Linked DNA regions of Homo sapiens. The protein of the gene in region 3 interacts with the protein of the main gene of each other region in a pairwise test. Each region holds a gene or a part of one and is shown on either strand. Other genes may lie near its edges.

What was found. Proteins that work in one complex are often made in the same cells at the same time.
Region 1: the proteins of DCDC2 (region 3) and DYNLT2 interact in binary tests that used the Homo sapiens proteins (3 or more experiments, as listed by UniProt).
Region 2: the proteins of DCDC2 (region 3) and B3GNT5 interact in binary tests that used the Homo sapiens proteins (3 or more experiments, as listed by UniProt).

What each region holds. Positions count from the first base shown.
Region 1 is NC_000006.12:169,741,572-169,748,599, forward strand, and holds part of DYNLT2 (dynein light chain Tctex-type protein 2), read right to left. Parts: intron 2,704-7,028; coding exon 2,497-2,703; intron 1,668-2,496; coding exon 1,509-1,667; intron 1-1,508. UniProt on the Homo sapiens protein: May be an accessory component of axonemal dynein and cytoplasmic dynein 1. Candidate for involvement in male sterility.
Region 2 is NC_000003.12:183,256,226-183,263,253, forward strand, and holds part of B3GNT5 (lactosylceramide 1,3-N-acetyl-beta-D-glucosaminyltransferase), read left to right. Parts: intron 1-1,102; exon of another isoform or gene 1,103-1,215; intron 1,216-2,832; exon of another isoform or gene 2,833-7,028. UniProt on the Homo sapiens protein: Beta-1,3-N-acetylglucosaminyltransferase that plays a key role in the synthesis of lacto- or neolacto-series carbohydrate chains on glycolipids, notably by participating in biosynthesis of HNK-1 and Lewis X carbohydrate structures.
Region 3 is NC_000006.12:24,173,052-24,180,079, forward strand, and holds part of DCDC2 (doublecortin domain-containing protein 2), read right to left. Parts: intron 5,582-7,028; coding exon 5,279-5,581; intron 1,784-5,278; coding exon 1,679-1,783; 3' UTR 1-1,678. UniProt on the Homo sapiens protein: Protein that plays a role in the inhibition of canonical Wnt signaling pathway. May be involved in neuronal migration during development of the cerebral neocortex. Involved in the control of ciliogenesis and ciliary length.

The DNA.
Region 1 (7,028 bases), about 150 Mb from region 3:
AATATAAGCTGAAACATTCCCCCACTGCACATCATGCCACTATCTACTAGCTACTAGTCCAGCTACACTTGTTACATATCAAGCACTCCAAGTCATCCCTGCCTCAGGATCTTTGCACTTGAAGTTTTCTCTGCTTGGAACATTCTCCCTTCTCTTTGGTACAGCTGGTTCCTTCTTATCTGAACATCAGAGGGTTCTCCCTTCTCTAAACAATCCCAAGTAGCCACTCTGCTACTCTGTCATATCCCTACCTTAATGTTCTCTTTGTAGCACTTATCATCTACAACGTCCCTATTTCTTAAGTCTGTATGTCATATGTGGTGCAGCTTCTCTTCTCCATGGGAGCCAGGACGGTTCTTTCTTGCTGACTGGCGGTTCTCTCGCCAGTACCCCTCTGCCAGTCCAGGTCCCCCTCCCCATGCTTCATCATGCAGTCCACTCCTCTATGGAACCTCTACAGATTCTTCCAAACACAGCTTTTTCTCTCTTTTCTCTCCAACTCCCACATATTCCTTACCAACTCCTTACATAATTACACAGCCTAGTGATATTATCTCTTTATTAATAAATAATGTTTATAATTACCTTGCTGTTTATTGAGGGCTCTGTGCTGGTGATTATGTTAAGGATTTTAATACAGATAATTTCATTTAATCTTCACAACAGCTCTAGGAAGCCAGTTTTATCATCACCATTTTATAGATGAAGAAACTGTGCCAAGGCCACAGCCAGCAAGTGTGGCAGAGGCAATCTGACTCCAAAACCCAGGCTGTTTACATTATCCCTATCATTTTATTTCCCTGAATTCTAAATTGTGCTGCTTTATCTCCTTAAGTAGAGTAAAATCTCCTTGAGAATCATGGTCCGTGTTTTATCATTCCTTGATTTTCCTTAGTACCTAACACCTATTAGTGCCCAAAATAAATTTACTGGTTAACTTAAATGACATTAAACTGTCAAAATTGATATGATCAAGGAACAGAATAGCAGTGCAATTTAATAAATTAGTAGTACCAAATTGCTACTTCTAGGTTTGTACTTTTCTTTCTTTTTTTTTGAGTCTGTTGCCCAGGCTGGAGTGCAGTGGAGCGAACTCGGGCCACTGCAACCTCTGCTTCCCAGTCTCAAGTGAGTCTCCTGCCTTAGCCTCCCGAGTAGCTGGGAATACAGGCACCCACCACCATGCCCAGCTAATTTTTGTATTTTTAGTAGAGACGGGGTTTCACCATGTTAGCCAGGCTGGTCTCAAACTCCTGACCTCAGGTGATCCACCTGCCTCAGCCTCCCAAACTACTGGGATTACAGGCATGAGCCAACGAACCCAGCTGGTTTGTACTTTTCAAATAATTTACAGTGAAATAAATATACTTAACAACATGATACTTTCCTTCAAAAAGTACCTCAGAATCTATGGCATGCCCTTGAGTCATCACAATAAAAATCAAATCACTAGGGAGGAGATGCCTTATAGTTCTAATTGCTAGATCCTGTATCAATGGGGTACTTACATTTATTGCTTGGCCAGTCTTTTGAATAAATAATACTTTTATAATGAACTTATAACGGTGGTACCCAAATTCTTTGACTGCTAACAGTATGCGGTCTGCCAATTCAAGTGACAAGTGAGAGAATACTTTATCATCATATTTGACATCTTTAAGACTTTCCTTTAAGAAAATTTAAGAAAAATACTTTTATTTTCAAACCAAATATTTTCTATATAAAAATTCAAGTAGAAAACATGTCTAAATAATATATATATAACTGTTTTAAAATAAATATATTCCTAACTAAATAATATTAAATAAATTTTATGCTTACCTATTTCAGTAACAATTTTGAGGAATATTTATTGGGGTTTTCAAATTATATTCAATTACTTTTCATTAGCGATACAAGCTGTAAGTTGTAATTTACTAGACTACTCTGCCAAACAGTTAATAGACACAAGGAGATTTTCTAAAGAAGACTTCTAGAAGGTAAAGGAAATTCTTAGGTAAAGGAAAGAAACCTTTTTAAATTTATACATTTATTAAAATTCAGATTTTGGTTTTCTTATACTGAAGATTACTTGGACTCAGAACCTGTACCAAGTCACTGCCCTGCTCAGTGGGCTCATATTAAAACTACTTCTTTCCAGCCCTCCCCTCTAGTCTCTCACTCCACTAATTTTTCTCTGGCCTCCAGGAAAATGAAATCAAAGATTTCTAACCATGTTTATTAATAAATTAATGTATAGCTTGAAGGAAATGGACATGGCTTGTGGACTATAAAGCATTACTCTTACAAACCAGGAGCAGAACTGGACACCTAGCAGACAGACTACACATCTCTGATTAACTAACTTGTTGTGCCTGCACCAATGACACAATACCTTCTGGTTCTAGTGACAATTGTATGAGCCAATTCCTGGAATAAATTTCTTCGTATATATAATTTCTGTTTCTCTGTAGAACCCTCATACAATACTGCTATCATATATATTTATCAACCTACTGTTAGTATCTGCTGGACTTTAGTTTCTACTGAATGAGCTTGGAATTTCTTCAATGGCTCCATTCTATATGAATTAGCAAACTTTAATTTTGCCAGGGCACTCTTCCATTCTTTACCTATATCAGCAATTGAGTCATCAAAAGGAGGCTCCACATACTGAACATTGTGAATTGACTCTCTCAGTCTTTCTCTTAAAATCTGTGTATACTGGAGGAGAAAGAGAGAGGGGAAGAGAGAAAGGCAGAAAGATTACTTTTTAAACTGTAAATGAGTTTTCAGATTAAATAAGCCTGTACAGTGGGACAGGGCTCACACAAAGCTTGGAAATTTGTTAAACAGATTTCTACAATAATGTGGTTGCTAAATCCTAGATTCACTCCTGGCTATCAATTTGGCAAAAAAAAATAGGAATACTATTTATTCTTTTATCTATACTCACAAACATATACATACAAATTGCATGCATATATTTAGAATATCCATGGATGATCCAAAGGAACTAGAAACAAGAGTGGCCTCCAGGGAGGGCAACTGAGTGGCTATGGGATGGAGATATAGGGAAAACCTTTCTTCCTCCCTACCCTGAGATTATGAAAATATTATCCTTCATTGTCTTAAAATTTTATTTTACTTCATTTACTTATTTTTAAATAATACAATTATTTAGATAGCACATTCGTAAGTCTTAAGGTGAAAAGACACCAAAAGAGCATTGATTTGATATATATATCAGTTCATGCTTTTGACATGAAACATCCATTCTGTGACATCCAATATGCATTAATGAAATATTTGCTTAGTGCCCAATATGTCCCAGATAAATGCTCTAACCTCTTAAGTTAAAGCAGTAAGCTTCATTTTATTAATAGCCAGGAATTTCTTTTTCTTGCCTAATTGCTTGGCTAGAACTTCCAGCTCTATGTTGAAAAGAAGTGGCAAAAGTGGACATCCTTGCTTTGTTACTAATATTACAGGAAAAGCTTTCAGTGTTTCCCCATCGAGTATGATGTTTGCTGTGAAGTTTTTTTTGTTTGTTTTTTTTTTTGAGACAGTCTTGCTCAGTCGCCCAGGCTGGAGTGCAGTGGCGCGATCTTGGCTCACTGCAACCTCTGCCTCCTAGGTTGAAGTTATTCTTCTGCCTCAGCCTCCTGAGTAGCTGGGACTACAGGTGCATGCCACCACTCCCAACTAATTTTTTTGTTGTTGTTGTATTTTTAGTAGAGACGGGGTTTCACCATGTTAGCCAGTATGGTCTTGATCTCCTGACCTCGTGATCCACCTGCCTTGGCCTCCCAAAATGCTAGGATTACAGACATGAGCCACTGCACCCAGCATTTGCTGTGCAGTTTTCATATAGAGCTTTTATTAGGTTGAAGTAGTTTCCTCCTATTTCTAGTTTTTGGGGTGTTTTTATAATAAAAGAGTGTTGAATTTGACATATAGTTTTCTTCATCAATTGAGATTTATCATGTGGTTTATTTCATTTAGTTAATGTGGTGTATTACCTTGATCGATTTTCATATGTTGGACCATCCTTGCATTCCAGGAACAAATTTCACTTGGCCTCGGTGTCAAATCCTTTAAATAAAATGCTGAATTCAGTTTGCTAGTATTTCGTTTAGAATTTTTGCATCAGTGTTAATACATGATACAGGTCTGTAATTTGCTTTTTTTGTAGCATCTTTGTCTGCCTTTGGTATTAGGGTAATGCTGACTTCACAGAATGAGTTAGACAGTATTCTCTCTGCTTTTATCTTCTGAAAGAGATTGTAATAATTGATATAACTTTTTCCTTAAATGCTTGGTAGAATTCACCAAGGAAATCACCTGAACCTGGTGATTTCTGCTTTGGAAGGCTGTTATTGATTCAAGTTTTAAAAACAGATATATGCTTATTCAGATTATCTATTTCTTTTTGTATGACTTTTGGGAAATTGCATCTTTCAAGGAACTGGTCCATTTCATCTAGGTTATCAAATTTCTGGGCACAGAATTGTTCATAATATTCTTTCATTATATTTATAGTGTTCATGTAATTTCTAGCAATATCCTGACTTGCATTTCTGCTATTAGTAATGTGTGTCCTCTCTTTCTTAGCCTGCATAGAGGCTTATAGATTTTATTGATCTTTTCAAAGAAAAAGCTTTTGGTTTTGTTGGTACCTGATTTCAATTTCATCAATTTCTGCTATAATTTTTATTATTTCTTTTCTTCTTGGATTTAATTTGTTCTTCTTTTTCTAGTTTCTTTGAGGCTTATTTTAGCTCTTTCTTCTTTTCTAATATATGCACACATTCAATACTATACATTTCCTTCCAACCCATTTTTGCTGCACTCTACAAATTTTGGTATGTTTTCATTTTTATTTAGCTCAAAATATTTTTTAAATTTGAGATTTCTTCTTTTGTAACAGTGTTTTTTGATGTGTAGCATTTCTAGTTCTTTCTTAGGATTTCCATTTCTATGCTTACATTGCTCATCCGTTCTTGCATGCTATTTTGTCAACTACAGCCCTTTAACATATTAATCATAGTTACTTAAATTGTGATAATTCCAACATCCCTGCCATGTCTGGTTCTGCTGCTCACTCTGTGTGTTTGTTGTTGTTTTTAGTATGCCTAATTTTTTTCCTGATAGCCAGACATGATTCACCAGGTAAAGAAACTGCTGTTAACAAGGCCTCTGGCAATGTGCTGGTAATGTATTAACGGAGAGGAAGCATTCTGTAGTTGTATGACTAGGTATTTTAGTGAACCTGTGCTTCTGGACTGTGAACTTCACATATGTTTCTGAGTTTTTTGTTTTTTTCCCTACTTGCTTAAGTCACACAGGATGGCTAAGGAGGGCTGGAGTGAGGTCACAGAGCAAACTGCTGCTTGTTAATCTACTTTTGGGGGCAGCAGTTTGTCCTGTGACCTCACTTTTTTCAGTTTGTTCAGCTTTTTACTTGTTAGGACATAGTAGGGACTTTAAGGAAGCTGGAAGTCTTACCTTTGCTTTTTGAACGATATTTTAGCTGAGTATAGAATTCTAGGTTGTTAGTCATTTTCTTTCAATCCTTAAAGATGATGCTTCGATGTCTTCTGTCTTGCATTGTTTCTGAGAAGTATGCTGTCATTTTGTCTGTTTCTATGTGTGTAACGTTCCTTTGTTCTAGTTGCCTTTAAATTTTTAAGTCACTGGTTTCAAGCAATTTTATTATTCTATGTCTTGGCATAATTTTCTTCATGTGTCTTGTGCTTGGAGTTCACTGAGCCTCTTAGATTTGTGGGTTTATAGTTTTCAACAGATTTGAAAATTTCTCATTCCTTATTTCTTCCAGTACTTTTTGTCTGTCCTCTCTCACCTCTTTGGGGACTCAAATTATAAGAACGTTAGGCAACTTTAAGTTCTGTCAAAGCTCATTGACATCGTGTAATATTTTTTCAGCATCCCCCCCAATTTCCACATCTCTAAATGTCCTTTCTTCTGCACTGTTGAATCTGCTGTTAATACCATTTAGTGTATTTTCATCCCTGACATAGTATTTTTCATCTACAGAAGTTCAATTTGAATTTAACATGCTCAGTCTTTCTCTACACTCTTAAATATATGGAATGTAATTATAATAACTTCATATGATTAAATTTGACGAAAACTAATAACTCTCTTAACTACTTTAATGTCTGTTTATACTAATTCTATTTTTGTGTAATTTCTGGGCTGTTTTTACTGCTTCTTCAATTTTGAACTTTATTTTCGTGCTTTTCTGTAGGTCTATTAATATTTAAAGACCAGACAGTGTGAATTTTACCTTCTTATAGGCTGGATATTTTTGTATTCCTAAGACTCTTGAGCTTTCTTCTAGAACAAAGACATTTGGAAACAGTTTAATCCTCTTTAGCCTTGCTTCTCAACCTTGATAAGCCAGATCAGAGAACTTGTTCTCTATTTTTTCCCACTACTGAGGCAATACACGTCTTAGCACGCTAACCAAAGCCCTGTATTTTTCATGATTTTCCACTTTTTCTGGTGGGAACATGTCCAAGGATTTTTTTTCTGTTCCTTTTGGGTGATTCTTTCTCCACCTCCACTCTCCACCTTTGGTGAGAAGCTTCCTCACCAGATGCACTGCTGCACTCAGCTGAATATTCTGGGAAACCCTCTGTAGGTCTTTGGGGCGGTTTGTGCATCCCTGTCTTAATACTCTGCTCTCCAGTCTCATGCTACCTTGGCTTCCCAGGCTCCTAACTCCTTTTGAAATAAAGGAGGCCTTTCCTTGTGTTGTAGCCTGGAAACTCTCACCAGGCAATTAAGGTGGGGGCAATATTGGGGTTCACCTTACCTATTTCTCATCTCTTGGAAATCACTCTCGTCCTGCCTGACACCTAAATCAATGGAAACAATTGTTCCATACATTTTTGTGTGTTACTTTAAGTAGTTTCTGATAAGAATTACTCCATATTGGCTGCGAGTAGAAGTCCCTCACATAAATAAATCTCTTCTTGTGATCATCTGTCAGGCTTCTGTGTCTCTTAACTGCAAAAGCAGCA
Region 2 (7,028 bases), on a different chromosome or scaffold from region 3:
TCTGTGTTCCAGAAACTGAGGCACAGTAAATTACAAGAGCTCTGCCCTTTGATATCGAATCTCTGTGAGCGAAGATGTAACCAGAACAGTGTAAATCTAGAATTACTTTCCTTACGGTATGCAATATCTAATTATTATGTATTAGTTTACATATATATAGGGGATGTAAGAATCTTTATATTTAAAGGATAAGAAACTTGATCAGGTGAGATACAAGATTTGAATAAAAAAGCGATTTTTTAGAAACATTTTAATTCTACAAATTCAGTTGCTGGCTTTGATATGTAACTTATTCAGATTTCTCTTCCATAGAAGGCTTTAACACTAGAAGCCAGTTCTCTACAAAAGAGAATGTTCTACCAAGTGTGTAGGCAACAAAGCCCAAAAGTTCAAGTTCAAAATACTGTTCTACAGCCTAAGATCCACCTAATATTTCAGATTTGACTCTTTTGCTCCTTTCCTATAACTTCCTATAACTTTTTCATAGTGCTCTAAGCAAAGTAAGTTCAAGGATGGACTCACCTCAAGTTTCCTTCTCTTACTTTAGAGGACCATATAATCTTATACCTGTGTCATCCTAATTGAAATGTATTTTAAGTGCTTGTGGGAACAAGAATAACGGAAGACCGTTATTCCATTAATGGAATAATGGGGAACATGAGAAGGACCATATTCAGTCAATTAGGGATGATACTTCTGCCTCAACAGTATTTGCGATGTGTTAAATGGCCCTTAGCCATCAGATCAGTATTTTTAAAAACTCCTACCTAATTAATGTTTTTTGAGAAGAAGCATATTATGAGTATAGCTCAGTATTCTAAAAAGAAAAAAACCTGAAAAAAAAATCAGCCATCCATTAACTAACCCATCCTGGTAAAGCTACACAAACAGATTCTAGAGAAAGGAAATTTGCACAGATGGAACATCTAATCTGGACTGACATTGTCAACAAGTTATCTCAAATGATCCTGAGAAAACACTGGTACATGGTTTAGAGACAAGTCGAGCTCATGTGACTAGTAAATGGAGAGGCACAGTATACATCTACTTTTGTTGGCATTTAAACACTCTCGGCTTTTTTACTCTCTTTCACCACCATCAGGTCCAGATTCCAGCTTGCACTGGAATATTTATTGACCCTTTGATAGAAGAGCTACACCTGAAACATCTCTGAAGTCTTTTTAGCATCCTATCCTGCCCATGGCCTACTACACAGTATGTGATAAGTTAATGTTTGTTGAATTAGTTAAATATACGTATTAACCTACTTTCAGGGCTGCCCGCTGTAATGCCTAGAATAGGGCAGGCACTTAATAAATGGTAGTTAACTTAGACTAAATGTTGATCCACCAAGACAGAAACATGTTACATATACCTCTTGTTTTACACCATCTTCTACTTTTTGTACCTCTGTGTTATAAACCCTCTATCAAGTGTTGCTTCTAAAGACAATGTCCAGAATGGGACGTAGGAACTGCCACTGGGCAACAGGCAGACACTGGGTTATATCGTCATCCTGTTTCTGAATCCTGGTTTTTCTTATTATTATTCAACCACAGCTAAACTTTCTGATCTCCTTTTTTCCGTTTTTTCCCTTTACCCTAACTTCTAGCCAAACTAAGTGATTTGACATTTCCCCACTCAAGCCACAACTTTTTCTCTTATGTGCTTAAAAAAAATTCCTGCGTAGTCTCTCTTGGAATGTCTTATTCCTTGCTCCCTCCACTTCACCCTTTTTTTTTTTTTTTTTTTTTTTTTTTGAGACGGAGTCTCGCTCTGTTGCCCAGGCTGGAGTGCAATGGTGCCATCTCGGCTCACCGCAACCTCCGCCTCCTGGGTTCAAGCGATTCTCCTGCTTCAGCCTCCCGAGTAGCTGGGATTACAGGCATGCTCCACCACACCCAGCTAATTTTTGTGTTTTTAGTAGAGATGGGGTTTCACCATGTTAGCCAGGATGGTCTTGATCTCCCGACCTCCTGATCCGCCCGCCTCGGCCTCCCAAAGTGCTGGGATTACAGGCATGAGCCACCGCACCCGGCCCACTTCACCCTTTAAGCCAGTTGAAATGCTCCTTGCCCTACTCCTCCCTTCTCCTTTTCTTTCTCCCATCCAAGTACTAACCAGGCCCAACCCTGCTTAGCTTCTGAGATCAGCCAGGATCAGGTGCATTCAGCGGGGTATGGCTGTAGACTTCTCTTTCTGAGCTGTGTCTTCCTCCTTTCCTCCCCAAACCCACATTTGAATTCTGTTCTAGCTCCTGCTCATTTGCCACCTCTCCCACAAAGCCTTCCCCAGTTTCCATCTTCTCCCTGCTTCCCTCATCTCAGAGGAAAGCTCTTCATTCACAGAGCACCTGGTTTGGGGTCCATAGTTTGTTGTCCCTCAGTATCCTTGGGGAATTAGTCCCAGGACACCACCCCCCCGCCCCTGATATCCATGCATGCTCAAGTCCCTTATATAAAATGGTACAGCATTTATATTATAACCTATGCAATATTCCCATGTACTCTTTTTTTTTATTTTTATGTGTTTAGAGATGGGTCTCACTCTGTTGTCCAGGCTAGAGTGCAGAGGCATGTAGCCTTGAGCTCCTGAGTCAAATGATCCTCCTGCCTCCGCCTCCCAAGTAGTTGGGATTACAAGTATGAGCTACCACACCTGGCCCATGTACTTTAAATCATCTCTAGATTACTTATAATAACTAATGCAATATAAATGCTATGTAAACAATTGTTACACGGTATTGTTTAGTGCATAATGACAAGAAAAAAATGTGCATGTTCAGTACAGACACGACCATAAATTTTTTTTTCAAATGTTTTTGATCTGTAGTTGGTTGAATCTGAGGATGCGGAACCCATGAACGTACACGACCAACTGCATATGGGTTTCTAATAACAGATTTGTGGATGAAGCCCACCCAACATAATGCAACATTTCAAATGTATCTTAGTCAGTTTTTCTGGGGCAAAGCCAGCCTAACAAATCTCAAGAATGTTTGAAAAATTCTAGCTTGAGTGAACGTTGTTCTTCTAGTGACTCAAATAAAGCAGTCATTGTGTCTGAGGAGTCCTAGTGGGGTGGCAGGGGTGGGGCTAGGAGTAGTGGCTGTTTGTAGCATGTTTTATATCACATTAAAGGGCTGGGTATGCATTTTAGGCAATAATTCTTACTCTTATTGATAGGAGAACTTGTATTTTTTATTCATCTACCTTATGATGGATAACTGGTTTACATCTCTTCATCAGGTTTACTTCTTACGTGTCATTTTATGAGCTGACTTTGAATATATCTTCAGATTTTCCCTGCCTTTACACATGAAAACGGTTTTGATACAGCTTTTTCATTAGAGAATGGCAGCTTTTCCAGGCCAGGGTGTCTGTGTCTGACTCCTCGCCTTTCATTTTACCCAATACTTGCTTAAAACATCCTCCCTGAGTCCGGTACTTTTTTGCCTCCTCTCCTTCCTTCCACCCCACCTCTTTTTGTCACCCTCCTGCGACTTTGGATCTCCATCCTTGGAGTCCCTGAATCTTTTTTGTGGTTGAAAGACTACACCCAAAGGACACAGACTGATGAGGTCACTTCTGCCCACTGTCTAGTACTAGTGAGACCAAGAAGAAGAAGGAGGGAAAACTGAAATGGAAGGTTTGAAAAAGAGTGTGTTAGTGAAGGAAGTAAGAACAGTGCTAACAGAATGCAGCAAAACAGAAATGACTTCACACTTCTGGCAGTGAAGCAAATTCTCATCCATCTTGGGTTGCTTCTCTTGACCCTGCCCACCTCCTCCCCTGCCCTCCCCTCCCGATGAGAACTGCAGGAACACCTGTGCCCATGCCAAGGAAAAAGGGCAGGTGAGGAACACAGGGATGGGGCTGGGACTCACAAGCTGCTCTAAGCTGCCACAGGGTCTGGAATTTGTTGACATTACATGGTTAACTCGGTATCTCGATGCCTCAGTATCTTCTGCAAAATGTGGAGGGAGATCCTTTCTTCCTCAAAGGTTGTTGTAAGGCTTAAAGAGCTACCACATTCGTAAGGCATTTGGAACAGGGCCTGGTATATAGTAGACATACCCATGGTAGTAACTGTTGCTAGACTGGGTAAAAGGAGAAGTTTCTTAAGTAGGCAAGAAAAAAACTGACAACAGTTATATTTAAAAGAGCAAGCAACCGTGTCAGCCCAAACAAGTGTGTTGCAAGAATGAGCACAGAGGGCCAAGCTCAGAAAAGCGAGTGTTTGACCTCTCTGAGACCTCCTTTATATGTCAGCTTTTTTATTTGTTTCAAATTTTGCATAATCAAACTGGTTACTGGGAATTATTGAGTTCATATAACTTCCCTAAAATCTAAGAATAATCTATAATCCCATGCCACCAGTCCCGTTAATAAAGACTTAGGGTCTGTCTTTACCCATTTGTTCATTTGAAATTCCCCGTCTTTACTTCCCCCATAACCAGGAAACAGATCTACACCCATGTTTAACTTATAAAGAGATATAAGTGAGTTTACATAGGTGGAGATCTTGTACCTGGATTCACATTGTAGGTTTTATTACCCAGCTTTCCCCTCTATCCCAAAGCCATGATTGCCATAGTGGAATTTAAAGTCTTTGGACTAACACTGAATCAAGAACTAACTCTACAAATGTATTCTCTGCAGGAGGATAAGAATTCCAAATGGCTTCTAATTGTTGCCCATGGCTTGAAATAAAGTTCCATATAGCTAAAGCCCCAGCACAAAAACACTTGAAGACAGCCATTAGGTAGAATTTCTTTTCTTTTTTAGAGGTCTTATATTGGAAATGTAACAGTTGCAAAGATATCTAATGTTTCACCTTAAAATGTGAGTTATAAATTCACATTTCACATTGCCTCCTTCCTCCTTGAGCAAACAGACTAGGCAATTAGTACCAAATAGTAACTAGTTATATTTCTTAACACCGATTATTGTAAGTAATTTATTAAGAAAAAATCTAGGAAGATCAAATTATAGCTTTTCCAGTAAATCTGGGGCTTTTTATTCCTGATCTCTCTCAACAAGGCAGTTTGGCTTCTGAAGATTGGTCCTAGCTATACTTAACAGGAAACAGATGACGAGAAGAAGCCAGGAAAAAATACTTGGAATATAGAACAAAATGCAGCATAAAGATGGTACAGAAGATTTTATCTTTCTTTCCTTTAGTTATGTGTGGACAGGAACTAAAAACTCTCCCACGTGGGACTTTATTAAGTAATAAAAGTTTAAATGTAAAAGATATAAAGGAATGAGGATATAAAGGAAATTTTTTTAAAAACTGTGACTCACCGGAGGAGCCTTATATAGTCTACTTTCTAAGCATATCACTTTTAAAGGGATCATTATATTTTCATGATGCATGGGGATATTCCAAGTATTAAATTGATTTTTTAAATGAAGAAAATTATCAGTTCAGTCTTGTTTTCTATGTAGGTTTCACTACAGTATTTTATTTCCCCCGCAAGGAAAAAACCAGAGCTAGAATGGAATGATTAAATTTCTTAGTTTTCTTCTAATCTGTTAGTCTTTCCATTAAATTATACTGCCTTCTTATATAGAATTTCTGGGTTTGTTCTTGTTTTGGCAATAATTGAAGTAAGAGAGGATGATTTTATGGTAGAGGTTTGATTCCATTCTAGATTGGTGTTTTTCAGCTATGTAGAACACAATCCATTCATGGTTCAGACAACCGTTTTAGGAGGTTTTCATGTCCAGCATTAAAAAAAAAAAAAAAAGAATAGAATTGGGCATTCATATATATATATATATATGAATATTTATTAATAAAAGTTTAAAAGATATAAAGGAATGAGGAATGCATATATATTATATATATATATACCAAATTAAAGTATCATAATACTAATACAAGGATTAGTATCGTTTTATGATACTTTATTATATACACTAAGGGTTAGTCTTGTTTTATGATACTTTATTATATACACTAAGGGTTAGTCTTGTTTTATGATACTTTATTATATACACTAAGGGTTAGTCTTGTTTTATGATACTTTAGGTTGGTATACATACATATACTAAGAATGCAGACATGTCCATGGAAGTTGGCAATATTCAGCCCCCAGCAGGCCCCAGTCAGCAGGACAGGGATTAGGGGAGTCAGGTGAGGCAGGGCTGTATAAGTGCAGGGTTGGAGCCTGTCTTGGTTTACCGTTTTGACATTTTGTTCACTGTGGATTTTTTTCAGTAACTTTGATTTTTTAAAAATATTGCATCAAAATATTATACTGACTACGGAGTTTTTGGTACCCCCTTAAATTGTGCACCTAAAATAAGTGGCTCCCTTGTCTCCCCCTAGTCCCGGCCCGATCAGTATGTTTTATAGAGGGAATGGTGAGTGTTGGGGAACTAGGGAGCCCATGAGGAGGCGGCCCAGAAGGGGAGGAGGAGCTGATGGTGTGTCTGATGTCTCCTCCTTTCTCTAGGAAGCAGACAGGAGGTGAAGTCTTCAGGGTGGGGGGGACAGAGCCTGGGAGGGGGAGATTTAGCATGGCCGCTGAAGAGACTGGGAAAGGGAGAAGGTTCGGGACAAGTTCAGGAACAGTCACGTAGCACTGAAAACTGCTCAAAGCTAGATAGTGCCATTTGTGGTGACGCTGCCTGCCTGGTAAGTCCCATTTCCCCAGCAGCCCTGGAGGTGTCATAGGAACAGGAAGATGGGAGGGCGCTGGGGTCTGGGGTTGTTGGGGTGGGAGGGCAAAGGTGTCCAATGATTCTGCATCTGAAACGGGGGAGGTGTGTGAGGAAGAAAGGTCAGGAGACTGCTGGGCAGGGTGGGGTGGCAGAAGGTTCTCGATGAATATTTAGAAGTTGCAGCTGAGGAGTGAGTGTACTATAGAGTGAGTATCCTGGAATTTGAGGTCTCAGAAGAAATGCAGTTCTCAGTGAAGCCATGTAAACAACTTCCTGGCTGATAAGGTGTCTTGAGTGTTGGGAGATCACATGATCAAAATGGTATACACACCATAAGGTGTCCTTAGACTTGAGTGT
Region 3 (7,028 bases):
AAGATTGTTGCTTATAGCCCACAGTGCTTTATATCATCCCATTTGAAAAAGTAACGCTAGTAGAAAGCACAATTTAGATTTTACACCAGAAACATAGTACCCTGTTTCTAATTCATGCTCCCAGATCACTATATCCTTGTGTCATTATCTCTTCCAAATACTGTTACATTATCTCTCTGTTTACACTTCTGATCTGTGGAAAATACCAAAATCATATTAAGAAAAAACACATCTATTTTCTATAGTATTATTAAGTGCTTTATATAACTGCCAACTCTTTATTCCAAATGAAACCTGGAAGAGAAAAAATGTTTTAAACTTGTAATTGTGAATTTTAGAAAAGCACTAGAAGTTAAAATTTCAAGCTTACAACTTCCACATAATTAAAAATATATCCTTTAAGAAAAATATATTATTTCTATATTTATGGAAGAACATCTCTTAAGAATTCATAAAAAGGACGAAATTATGTTTTAATTATGTTTTTATGTTTTCCCCATACATACCTCACAAGGCAACTATAAATCAATTTAGTCAGTCCATGAAGTTGTGATTCAGGAATTGGTTTCATTATAATAACTTCTAAAGTTTTACAATTTCTATCAGATGCCTTCTAATTACAAAGAAATCTGCTTGAAATTCTAACTATATCATGCTAGGAAAAATAAATATTTGCTGATATCCCTAGGGCAAAAACATAGTAAAACAGTCTTAATAGAAATAAGGCAAAAAACAAGTTAAATTGAGCAGTCACAAACTCTTCATATAGTCTACTTTTTTCTTCCTAATACACTTTTATTTTTGTTGAAAACTATTTGAAAATAATTTAATCTTTGGAATAGCCAATATCAGGTTCTCTAATAACATAAGGGAGAAGAGAGAGATACTATTGGTAAAGATAGACTGGATCAGTGAAAATCCACAGGATTTCCATTATCTGCAAACCATACATCCAGGCTTTATAATATAACTGGGTGCTCCTTTACAATTCCTTCCTGAGTGTGCGCCATTGGAGCCACAAGCATGCAAGCCTGAAAGCATTTAAGTGACGGCATGGCGATACTAGTCACTAACACTCTGAACCAATGCTTCCTCCCACCAAAATGAACGCCTTGCTCTGTCTTTGTAGTTCAAAGGTGGATTTTGGCTAAGGAGGAAGAAAGAAAGGCATGTTAACAAGTCATGGACACATTTTGATCTACTGCCATCTCCAAATTATGTCTGAAAGTAAATCGCAATCTGTTCATTCAAGAGTTTATTGCTTTAAGAAAATAGTACATGCTTTCCTATTACCAGTTCTTTAAAATTCTACGCCTTCCTAGAGAAAAATTATTTAGAATAAACTGCCTTCTAAACTTATAATAAAGCGTACAATAAGAGTGATCCTATTTTTCATCCTTTACAAGTGGCAATTGTCTTCCAGTGCAAATTCTCCTCTGTCCGTCTTATTTAATATTTCTATATGACTTTTAAAACACATGCAATAAAAGTAAGTAATTATCCTTTAGTAGCCATTTAAAGTTATCTGGTCTTTCCACTAGGCTTCTAATGTTATAATTCGTAGGTAGTATTCGACCATAGTGTCACATTATATTCAGCAATAACTATGTGCTTATCTTTCAAGTATGATAACCCTTCATTTTTCTTGCGATCCATATACTCTCTTTTTAAAAATGTTCTAAGCCACGGCAGCATAGTCCTTGTTTTGTTGGTTGTTTTCATTTTCTTCTGGACTGGTAATTTTTACTTCTGGCCTTGGTGGTCTTTGAGGGTCTACATCAGCCTAGAAGAAAATAGATCAAAACAAAGGTATTCAGCTGTTTGGTTCACAAAGGTAATGACATTTATAAAGAAAAAATTACTCAAGATTCTATTTAATTATATAAATATTTAACTAAAAAGAGTTCCTGGGGTTCCCTTTGTTTTTTTGTCTATCATTACCCAGTGGACATACTGTTTTCTCAACACTTGTACAAAAGTCCTTTTGGGGTTCATAATCTACTAGTGCTTGAAAGGCCCTGACTCATTTTGTATGCTGCAGGCTTTATTTTTCTCATTTTTTCTTGATTTCTCTTTGAGCTTTTCTTCAATTTAGTTATACTTTTCAGTTTAGCATTTTCAGAGACAAAGGAAGAAAAAATTCAGGGACATTCTCCTAATTTTAGTTTCCTCCTAGAATTCACAAATTCGTTGTGAATATGGTACCAAGTACCATCAAGTAGCAAGTAGATAAGAAAAAGACAGAAAATCAAAATGTGGAGGCAGCATTTCTCCAACAACAACTATTGCTCCTGCCACTTGGGTTTTTCCTGTTAATAATGACATTGTCTCATGTACAACTCACCTTTCCCCGACTACACTGAAAACTGAGTGGGTGAGATTAGAACCAGCAGGTTTGCAAAGTCTGCTCTATGAAATCCTAGAGGCTCCACAGCCCCCACAAGGGCACCCAGTCTGGGGGACAGAGTAGCTCCAGGTTCCCCAAACCACACAGGCCATGACTGATGCTTTGAAGAAATTATATATATATATGACTGGTGCCGTGTCTTATTTCACACTGTTCCTTTGTGAAATGTCTCAAATGGTATCTTGAATATAGTACAAGTTCAATCTCAATAAATGTCAATTGTTTCTTGTAAATTCTCTGTATTTCCTGGTATTTTCCTACAATCATATCTCGCTTTGTACAAGAATTGTTACATGGAACAAAATGTTACACGGTGAACAGAATTTCTAGTCATTTTATTAGTAGACAGTCCTTCTGTAAAAGTTAACTATTCATTTTTAACTTACAATTCACATAAATTTGGTTTCTCATATATTTCGGTATGCTTAAAATATACCTATACTAATATGTTAGGGAGAACAAGATAAAATATATCATTGTTATAAGTAAGAGATGAGTCAAATAAGATTAAATCTCTTTGTGAGTAACTGCTCTGTTACTAATCCCTAATTAGGCCGGGCATGGTGGCACGTGGCTGTAATCTCATCACTTTGAGAGGTCAAGGCAAGAGGATCGCTTGAGTCCAGGAGTTAAAAACCAGCCTGTGCAACACAGGGAGGGAGACTTCCTCCATATTAAAAAATATGTATATATGGCCTGGCATGGTGGCACCTGTGGGCCCAGCTATCACAGGAGGATGAAGTGGGAGGATCACTTGAGCCCGGGAGGTCAAAGCTGCAGTGAGCTGTGATCACGCCACTGAACTCCAGCCTGGGTAGCAGAGTGAGACCTTGTCACAAAAAAAAAGTCCCTAATTAGATGTTGTCTCAAAAAAAAAAATCACAAACTAGGCACTTCCTTATTTGAATTCCCAAGAATTTAGATTCACTCTCATTACATACCACAGGTCAATGCCAAATTACATAACCTTGATCTTGACGGATGCCCAATTCCTATCAAAAGCCTATTTTTCCCCTTTAAAAAAATATTCATTTGTCATAATTGGCAAATAAAAATTGTATGTTTATAGCATACAAAATGATGTTTTGAAATATGTATCCATTGTGAAATGGCTTGAGTTAATTAACATACACCTTACCTCACATACTTATCTTTTGTGGTGAGAACCCTTCAAATCTGCTCTGTTAGTGATTTTCAAGTATACAATACATTGTTATTATACGTTAGACACCTTACTGTACAATAGATCTCTTGAACTTATTCCTCCTTTCTCGCAGAAATTTTGTATCATTTGACCAACATCTCTCCAACCCTGTACTCAGTCCCTGGTAACCACCATTCTACCTTCTACTTCTATGAGTTTAACTGTTTTTAGATTACACATATAAGTGAGATCATATGGTATGTGTCTTTCTTTGGTTGGCTAATTTCACTTAACATAATGTCCTCCAGGTTTATTCATGTCATTGCAAATTACAGGATTATTTTTTAAAGTTATATTTATGGAAGATGGAAGGACAGGCAATCCATTCATTTCTGTAAAATCTATTTATGTGATATGTTGAATTAAGCTAGACCACTGGAAAAAAATCATGTTGGATCTTACTATCTAGTCCCACACAGAATTACACTTTGATTTCATTTTGTAAGCTTTCATCAAAAGCTACTACAACAAAGAGTTGTATGAAACCTACTATTACAGGTGCCATATAAATGACGCTGAGGACTATGTAGAACTAATATGGGGAATTTCTTATAGAATAGGACTATGATTATCTCACCTTGAGAAAAGATAAGAGACATGCTGAGCATTTTCATTTAGATGTTAAGAACATTTTGAATAACTCATATAGTGGATTGCAGATAACTTCGTACTGTTACTGAAACCTGGCCACCAGAACATTTTGCATTTTGCCACCGCTAAACTTGCTTTCCCTAAGCAAGATAAATCAGATGCATCAATAATAAATAATCAAGTAGACCTCAGTGATCATAGTGGGTATTAGGAATGAGTAGTCCAAGGCCCACTTCAGCAGTTACAGCCTTGAGGGAGGTGGACCTTGAACTGACGGATAGACAGGAAGGGATGGGATAAGCAGATGGTGAGAATGTTATGGAGAACATCCTGCCTCTTATGCTGTGAGACTCAACTTGAGCCTGGCAGCAACAGGATCATATTGTCCCGTGGAAGAATGCCAGGACTGATGAGTATCCAACTCCAGGATCAGACATAGAAGAACAGGCTAGGAAAAGAGAGATTTCACCAGATATTACTTTTTCTGTTCTCTTATTTTCACCACATATTTCTTTATCCTCTCTGTATAATAAATAGAACTGTATACTACCCAAGTGCCTAATGTGTTGAATGCTTAATTTGATTAATCTATTTAAAGTAGAAAAAAGCAAACTAACTTCAGTACTTCTAGAGATCAAAGAAATCACTCATAATAGAGAAAGTATTCCTTATTTCATGTCTAGGTCTCACTGGTCTTGATATTCTTTTTTGGTTTCTACCTTCTCTGGTCTTAACTTATTCTTACTTTTTTATATTTCTTTCTTGGATTATGTATGTTCTTAGAAGGCTCTGTACATTTTCTTGTAAAATTAGGCAGGAGGTAAGTAGATGGATGGGTCAATGGCTAAATGTATGAATGGCAGAAGGGCAGACACAAACTGTCAGGTCAATGGCAGTATTGTTAAATGGTTGAAATAACTAGTAAGTAAAGGGATTAAATGGTATTGGATCTTTCCTACTCAACCACAAGTGGTTTCAATACAAGTCCTAAACACTTGATTAATTCTCTGAATGCACGCATGTACACACACACATATTCATGCATTCACATAAGCAAGCAAAAGCAATAGAAATACCTCATCTTGTCCACTGCCAGCTCCTTGAGACTTTCTTTCCTTGTCTAGGACCAGTTGAAGCTCATTATTAACCTGCTGCAGCTCCTCACCATTCTCCTCATCGGTGCCTCCATTTACACGAGCAGGGCGTGCCTGCTGCTCACTGTGATCCAGAATCTCCTCGACTTGCTCAGGGGCATCTGTAGCCTCCCTACCTCCTTCCTCTTCAAGGTCACCATTCATTCCTGAAAAGTCTTCTTTCTGTTCTGCATCCTTGTTTGCCTTCTCTCCATCTTCTTCCTCGTCTACTATTTCTGCTGGCCTCTGATGGATCAAAAGGAATAATGGATAAAAGTAAGAAGCATAACAGAACATTTCCACTGCACATCATAGTAATGTAATACTTATATTACAGTCAAGTAAAACATTCTTACATTTGCATAGTACTTTACAGTATAGAACGCACTTACGTTTACTGAGTACCTACCACATGCCACATGTTACAAGCATTCCCTCATTTAATCCTCACAACAATCCTTTGAAATTGTTATCATTCCCATTTTGCAGATGAGAAAACTAAACAGGTGGAGCCCAAGATCCCACAGAAAGAGCCAGAGTTTGAACTAGGCCTGTGACTCCAGAACCAGTGCTTGTAACCCCCATGGCAGATAGAAAGCCAAACCGCAAGGTCCTTGGCCACTGTCTAGTGAAGCACCTGGCCCAGAGGAAGAGGTTTAAAAAAAAAAAGTCTTTGTGGAAAGATTGTCATCCTCAAGGCTAAGGATGAGGGCAATGGCACCAGGCTGTGAATTCATGTTTTCTGACGTGGAATGTAGACAGCTTTCCCCACAATGCCTAAGGAAGCTGACAGCTTCTCTCTAAACACAATAACTGATTTTCCTGCAGATCTAAGGTCAAGAAACTATATGTCCTCTCTGTAAGAATAATAAATGCTGAGGGCCAGGCACAGTGGTCACACTTGTAATCCTAGCACTTTGGGAGGCCGAGGCGGGCAGATCATGAGGTCAGGAGATCGAGACCATCCTGGCTAACATGGTGAAACCCCATCTCTACTAAAAATACAAAAAAATTAGCTGGGCATGGTGGTGCACACCTGTAGTCCCAGCTACTCGGGAGGCTGAGGCAGGAGAATGGCGTGAACCCAGGAGGCAGAGCTTGCAGTGAGCCGAGATCGCGCCACTGCACTCCAGCCTGGGTGACAGAGCAAGACACCATCTCAAAAAAAAAAAAAAAAAAAAAAAAAAAAAGAATAAATACTAAAGTATTTCATAAACCTTAATCAAGCATTTCACTGTTCTACTGTTATTTTGATACACATAAATCTGCTTCAAGAGGGAACAGGAGGCCAGGCACGGTGGCTTATGCCTGTAATCCCAGCACTTTGGGAGGCCGAGGCGGGCAGATCACGAGGTCAGGAGATTGAGACCATCCTGGCTAACACGGTGAAACCCCATCTCTACTAAAAATACAAAAAATTAGCCAGGCGTGGTGGTGGGCACCTGTGGTCCCAGCTACTCAGGAGGCTGAGGCAGGAGAATTGCATGAACCCGGGAGGCAGAGCTTGCAGTGAGCCCAGATAGTGCTACTGTACTCCAGCCTGGGCGACAGAGCAAGACTCCATCTCAAAAAAAAAAAAAAAAAACAAGGGGTGGGGGAGGGAACAGGAGGCCAGCTTTCAGAGCCAAGACTTTGGAGAAAAACCCAGGTTCAAGTCCTGACCAGGCACTTACTGGCTGTTACCTAACTTTGG